Homo sapiens: one gene and its partner. The protein of the gene in region 2 purifies or fractionates together with the protein of the main gene of each other region. This does not show direct contact. Each region holds a gene or a part of one and is shown on either strand. Other genes may lie near its edges. The genes, in order: GSTA2 and STEEP1.

Region 1 (3,823 bases), on a different chromosome or scaffold from region 2:
TCATCGGTGGTCACAGTCATGAGAGAAATTGGTGGAATCACTGCCAGTACCCACTGATGCTGTGCCAGGATTTATCATCTCCATTGTGGTTTGTTCTGTGCATGAACTTAGTGTGAGTCAAATGGCCAAAGACCTGCTTCCTAAGTAATCCTAAGAGAGTCCCTGGCACAGCCATCTCAGCCATATTCCTTGTCCTCTCTCATCATTTTACAGCTCCCAGGGCTGCTTCTATGCCCCATATTTGCAGTTCTTCCAATTACACCCATGAAAAACGTTTCCACAGCCCTCTCCATGTGCTGTTGCCCAACTCTAGCCATGTGTGCCTTTCTTAAGAGCCAACCCCTTCCCTGGTGAAATTCTCTGTACAGTTACAACCGTGCAAACTTTTCTTCTTTTGTGTCAAACTGGAGTTTCACAATACTTTTTAAAACAAGAGCTTTACTGATGCATATTCACATACTATAATTGCCACCTCTTATGTTATACTATTGAGTGGTTTTCAGTGCATTCACAGAATTCTGTAAAAATAATCACAGTCTAATTGCAGAATTATTTTTGTCACCTTGATAAGGACATCTGTACCATTAGCGGTATTCTTCATTTTTCTCCAAGCCCCACTCCTTTAGCCCCAGGCAATCACTAATCTACTTTCTACCTCTATGGATTTGAATATCTGGACATTTCATATTAAAATAATCCTATAATATGTGGCCTTCTGTGTCTCGTGTATTTTATGTAACATGTCTTTATGGTTTAACCATCTTGTAGCATGCATTCGTACTTCATTCCTTTTCATGACCAAATATCTTTCCATTGCATGGCTAAGGCGCATTTTTCTCCTCCATTTATTGATTGATGGATATTTGGGTTGTTTCCACTTTTTGAATTCTATGAATATTGTTATTTGCATTATTCACTTATGTAAAATATATAGTGTGGATGTATTTTCGATTGTTTGGGGATATACTTGTTAGAGGAACTGCTGGGTCATCGGTAATACCATATTAAAGTTTTTGAGGAGCTGCCAGCAGTTTCATTCAGGATTTATTTGGAATCATGCAGTCTCATCACAACAACAAGGAGACCCCTTGGCTTTGCTGGTATTGAATCAATCTGGCTGTTTCGGCCTTCTATCCATGTGTCAAGGTAACTCCAGTATCCTTGGTGCCAGCCTCTACTAGCCCTGCTCAAGTATTCCAGTTGATATAATTGGTTGGTAATTTAGGTTCCTGTTCATCATACTTGGAATTACTGGGACCTTAGACTTGGTTTCTTTGCAGCTTTCCCTCCCCAGTCCTTCATCTACAGACTCTCACATATTCTATGCCTGTCCTAAGCCATTGGCCGGGGTCCAGCCTCTGAAGTCCTGAGCACCTGGAAACATGATTCCCCATCCTCCTCAGTTCATTGGGTTTATGAGAGTTTGGAAACCTTTGTCAGGGTGCTGTGTCCATGGACTGCATCCTCTTCTAGAATCACCCTCGCCTGAACCCTCCCCATGTTCACTGTTCCCTCATCTCCATGGGACTCTGCAATACTGGACCTCAGCGTGCATGCCCAAGGCCCAGCCTGCTGCTGGTCTTGATACCCTGCCATGGTCCCACCCACTCAAGGAAGGACCTAAATCACTCTATGTTCTCTGTGGATGGAAGAACAGAAAATATACCGTACAGGGCTTTCTCCTTTATGTCTTTCCCATAGAGGTTGTATTTGCTGGCAATGTAGTTGAGAATGGCTCTGGTCTGCACCAGCTTCATCCCATCAATCTCAACCATTGGCACTTGCTGGAACATCAAATATCCATCTTTAAGAGGAAGAAAAAAAAGGAGAGTGAAGTGTCTATGAAACCCACCATTTCAGGATGAAAAAAAATGGTTGTTGAAATGACTAAATTTGTAAAACGAAAAAGAAATTACTGCCTGGTAAGAGTTCACTTGAAACAACTTTTTTTTTTTTTTTTTGAGGCAGAGTATCATTCTGTTGTCCAGGCTGGAGTGGAGTGGTGTGATCTTGGCTCACTGTAACCTCTGCCTCCCAGGTTCAAGCGATTCTACTATCTCAGCCTCTCTATAGCTGAGATTACAGGCATGCACCACTGCACATGGCTAATTTTTGTATTTTTAGAAGAGATGGTGTCTCACCATGTTGGCCAAACTGGTCTCAAATTCCTGAACTGAAGTCATCCACCTGCCTCAGCCTCCCAAATTGGGATTACAGGTGTAAGCCACTGCACCCAGTCCAAACAATATGTTTATAAAGCTTCCTGTAGTTCTTCTTTTTCTTAAGAAGTTTCCTTTTAGTTTTTATCCATTTATTTCATATATGTTTTTGTTGCCCCTCCAGATACATAGTGGGACTCTTGAATTTTTTGTGTTGATTTATCTTCATGGATATTTTAGGAAGAGGTTGGGACAAGTTACAATAGTACTGGCAACAAGATGTCATTTAAAACAGGATGTTCCCAGAGTAAGTCTCATGGTGTTTATGATATTTAAGGCAGGTTCTGAGAGGTTTTTATATAAGGGTCCCTTTCTGTGCTCTTCAAAGTCTGCGATATTGCTACAGTGTTACCCAGTCCCACTCCCCCCATGAAAGAAAAAACTCAAGACAGTGGCCACATCTATTCCTCCTCCTTTTGTCTAATGCATGTTCTTGCATGTGCTTGGATGGAGAGGGCTGTATGGGATCCTGTGCTGATGACCACTGCTCACTCACAGTACCCCAAGCATGAAAACAAAGAAAGGGCTTTCTCAGGGGTGGGAGATTGTTCCTCTAGCAAATACTCTGAGAGGTCTGGTCCTTTAAGCCTGGAGAGAGTTGCCAGACTTGCTCAAGGAGCCACATCCCTTCCATTTTAACCACTTTCTCCCTCTGCACCATGTACAAATACCATGCCCCACACCCATAGACATTGCCGGCTGCGCAAACCTCCCCGTGTACCTTCTACTAGATACCCTCATTAGAGAAACTTAGAGGTTGATCTTACCATTTCTTAACTTGTCCAAATCTTCTGCAGATTTTATAAATTTCTCTTCAAACTGGAAGCAGAAACAGTAAATATGTTCTTGTTAGTTCATTCTATTATAGACCTGTGAAATTGAATGGCCTCTATCTGGTGCATCATTTGGAGAATATAAGATTTCTGAGTTTGGCAGGGTACACAGAGGGGGCTAGTCATGGCCATTTGGAAATTTAGACCTAATTCATTGAGAAAAGTGCATGGGTCACAGCACATAGCTGCTCAATCTTCTAGTTCACTTCACCTCCACCTTGATATGAATGTCTATGATTAGGTCATGTTTTGAGAGGGACATCACTGGAGAAAAGGCACTGAGCAGTTCTTCTAGTTATGGTGTTGTCATATCTTAGGAAAGCCTGTGTCTCCAAGTGAGATCAGACCACAACCTTGTGTGTCCCCAGCATGAGGCATGACATGGGCTAATGGCCATCAAATATTCTGCCACCAAGGAGCCTCTGCTGTAATTTGTATCGCCCCACTTCTCAGGAACCCTGCTAAGGGTGACATAGGTCGCCACTGTTGCACAGCTTTCACACTTGCAACTGTAATTTTCTCTTCTGAAGTACGTGAGACACAATAGGGTAAAATTCTCAATTTAATAAAGGAATTAGGGTCCCACACTAGCATTATTTTTAAGGAAAACCTCTGGTTTCTGATGTGGTTTTGTGGCATTGGGGAATGCTTGTGTGTTCTAGAAGCCTCCTCCCCTCATTTTAACCACGTGTTTATTTCTCTGCATCCTCATAGACACGTAGGCTGCCCCAGGGCAGGGACTGTGTCTGTCTTGTTCACTATCTCCATGAC
Region 2 (3,823 bases):
GGGGAGGAAGGAGGAGTCCTTAATGGATTGGGCTAGACTCCTCCCCACTCAGAGCAGCTTTCTGCTTATCAGTCTTATTTATACTTCTGGGTAAGAATTTAATTAAAGAAAGGATTTTTCATCTAAAAATGTTTCAAAGGCATTGCTATAAGTGATGAAGGGTCACTAACAGATTTGAAGCAGGTGACTGACATAATGTGTATTTCAGATAATTCAAGCAGTAGAGGATAGACTGGAGGAGAGCAAAACTAGAGACCAAAAGACCAGGTAAGAGGCCACTTCAGTAGTCTAAGTAAGTGATTTTGGGTACTGAAATAACGGCAGTGCAGCAGGGCTGAACAGGAGGCAGCAGCCACAAAAGAGATTAGAAGGCAGAATCGACAGTACATGGTGAGTGACTAGATGTATGCAGGGGATGATGGTGGGATGGTGGGGACAGATGAGACAAAGAGAGACTGACTCCTAGATTTCTGGCTGGGGCCACTGCATGAATCCTGGTGTCATCATAAGAAGAAGGAAAAGAAGGACTAGCATTTGGCTAATAGTAATAGAGACCTGACTGCAATGGCTTCAACAAAAGAGCTTGTTCTCTCATGTAACATCAGGAGGAAGGCAGTTCTGAGCACTGGTTGAGACCCAAGGATAGCAGGGCAAAGGCTCTGCAATTCTTGTGGCCTCTCCTTCCCAGTTCCAGGCTGGCTGCTAGTGTTCCAATTATCATGTCCATTTCCCAAGAAGCAGGATGGAATAAGGATAAAGGGTAAAAAAGGCTTGAAGTCACCCATCAGCTGACATCTACTTCCATCTCTTTTGCTTGGCCAAAGCTAAGTCATATTCAGAATCTTAGTTGTTGGGGGGAAGGGGACTGGAATATGCACCCTAACTTTACAGACACTCGTGTATAGGAGGGTGTAGCAGAAGAGTGTCAGAGTACGCCTGTAATCCCAGCACTTTGGGAGGCCGAAGTGGGCGGATCACGAGGTCAGGAGATCGAGACCGTCCCGGCTAACACAGTGAAACCCCGTCTCTACTAAAAACACAAAAAATTAGCCGGGCGTGGTTGCAGGCACCTGTAGTCCCAGCTACTCAGGAGGCTGAGGCAGGAGAATGGCCTGAACCCGGGAGGCGGAGCTTGCAGTGAGCTGAGATCACGCCACTGCACTCCAGCCTGGGTGACAGAGCGAGACTCCGTCTCAAAAAAAAAAAAAAAAAGAGTGTCAGAGTGGTGCTGAGCGAATCGATCTGTGGTACTGTCCACAGTAGAGAAATGATAAGTTTGGCCTTCATCATGTTGGATCTGAAAAGTAGGACATCAGGTGAAGAGGTAGAGTAGGCAACTGGCTATACAGTTCTGGGACACAGGAAGGCACAGTAGGCAGATTTAGATTTTATCATCAGCATAAAAGTGTAACTAATGCCATGTAAGGTGACAAGAATGCCCAAGGAAGGCATAAAGAGAGTGGGGACAAAAGCAAGGTCAGAACCGCATGGAATACCAATACTTGAGGGGCAGGCAGAAGAAAAAGAATCCAAAGGATTGAGAAGGCCAAAGAAGGAGAAGGAGGCTCACAAGAGCAGCTTCACGTGTTGAAACCCTGTCTCTACTAAAAATACAAAAATTAGCCAGGCATAGTGGTGCACAACCGTAATCCCAGCTACATGGGAGGCTGAGGCAGGAGGATCACTTGAACCCAGGAGGCAGAGGTTGCAGTGAGCTGAGATCGCATCACTGCACTCCAGCTTGGGTGACAGAGCGAGACTCTATCTCAAAAAAAAAAAAAAAAAAGAAAAGAAAGAAAGAAAACATGTAGCTAGATGTCAGCCTATAGTTTTTTTCTGGTTCAACACTAAAGTTTCATAAGGGCAGGATTCTTTGCTGTTTACTGGTTGTACTGGGTTAGATAGTGACCCTTAAAAATTCACATTCTGGCCGGGCACAGTGGCTCATGCCTGTGATCCCAGCACTTTGGGAGGCCGAGGTGGGAGGATCACTTGAGTCCAAGAGTTTGAGACCAGCCTGGCCAACATGGTGAAACCCCATCTCTACTAAAAACACAAAAACTAGCCAGGCATGGTAGCACACACCATCTCAAAAAAAAAAAAAAAAAGAAAAAAGAAAAAAGAAAAAAAAATCCACATCCATCCAGGAACCTCAGAATGTGACCTTATTTGGAAATAGTGATGTTGCAGACATAATTAGTTAAGTTAAAATGATGTCATACTGGAGGAGGATGGGCCCTTAATCCAATATGATTGGTGCCCTTATAAGAAAAGAACAGGCAAAGGGAGAATGCCATGTGATGATACAAGCACTGACTGGAGTGATGCATTTACAATACAAGCCAAGGAATGCCAAGGATTGCTGGTAAACGCCAAAAACCAGGAATGAGGCAAGGAAGGATTCTCCCCTACAATCTTGAGAGAGAGCATGGACTTACCAATACCTTGATTTCAGACTTCTAGCCTCCACAACTATTAAACAACTTCTCTTGTTTTAGGCCACCCAATTTGTAGTACTTTATTTTTTTTTTATTTTTTGAGACAGTGTCTCACTCTGTCGCCCAGGCTGGAGTACAGTGGCACAATCTCAGCTCACTGCAACCTCTGCCTCCCCATACAAGCAATTCTCCTATCCCAGCCTCCCGAGTAGCTGGGATTACAGGCACACGCGCCACCATGCCCAACTAATTTTTGTATTTTTAGTAGAGATGGGGTTTCACTACGTTGGCCAGCCTGGTCTCGAACTCCTGGTCTCAAGTGATCCACCCACCTCAGCCTCTCAAAGTGTTGGGATTACAGGCGTGAGCCACCACACCCAGGCTGTAGTACTTTACTATGGCAGCTCTAGAAAACTAATACACTGGCGGCCGGGCACGATGGCTCACGTCTGTAATCCCAGCACTTTGGGAGGCCAAGGCAGACAGACCACGAGGTCAGGAGATCGAGGCCATCCTGGCTAACACGGTGAAACCCCGTCTCTACTAAAAATACAAAAAAAAATTAGCCGGGCATGGTGGCAGGCGCCTGTAGTCCCAGCTACTCGGGAGGCTGAGGCAGGAGAACGGCGTGAACCTGGGAGGCAGAGCTTGCAGTGAGCCGAGATCGCGCCACTGTACTCCAGCCTGGGTGACAGAGCGAGACTCCGTCTCCAAAAAAAAGAAAACTAATACACTGGTATATATTCCAGACTTCTAGGATAGTACCTGGAACATAGTAGGAGCTCGGTAAATGAAATATTTGTTGCATGAATGGATGGATTTTTTAATTCCCTAGGATTGACCTTTCCATGACTTCTAGCACCTGCTGCTGACCGTCCCCTAGCCACACCCCCACACACTTCTTGATACTCTCTCCTATTTTCTGCATCACCAGGTTCTTCTGGTTCTGTTCCAATTCTTTTGTCTGCCTTTTAAATATTCAGTCCTATCTGCTTGCTCCACACTCTGTAATTTTATCCCTTCCCAGGTTTCAATTTCCCATATATACCAAACTCCCAAATCTAAAACAGAGCTAACCACATCACACCCCTGCTTAAAAAACAGAGATAGGCCGGGCGCAGTGGCTCACCCCTCTAATCCCAGCACTTTGGGAGGCAGAGGCAGGTGGATCGCCTGAGGCCAGAAGTTCGAGACCAGCCTGGCCAACATAGTGAAATCCCATCTCTACTAAAAATACAAAAAATTAGCCAGGCGTGGTGGCAGGTGCCTGAAATCCCAGCTACTCAGGACGCTGAGGCAGGAGAATCGCTTGAACCTGGGAGGCGGAGGTTGCAGTGAGCCAAGATCACACCATTGCACTCCAGCCTGGGCAACAAGAGCGAAAC

Evidence for each region.
Region 1: the proteins of STEEP1 (region 2) and GSTA2 purify together in Homo sapiens (affinity purification with mass spectrometry; one large-scale study listed by BioGRID and IntAct). This does not show direct contact.

Annotation. Positions count from the first base shown.
Region 1 is NC_000006.12:52,753,272-52,757,094, forward strand, and holds part of GSTA2 (glutathione S-transferase A2), read right to left. Parts: intron 3,039-3,823; coding exon 2,987-3,038; intron 1,805-2,986; coding exon 1,672-1,804; intron 1-1,671. UniProt on the Homo sapiens protein: Catalyzes the conjugation of glutathione to a large variety of electrophilic compounds.
Region 2 is NC_000023.11:119,555,388-119,559,210, forward strand, and holds part of STEEP1 (STING ER exit protein), read right to left. Parts: intron 1-3,823.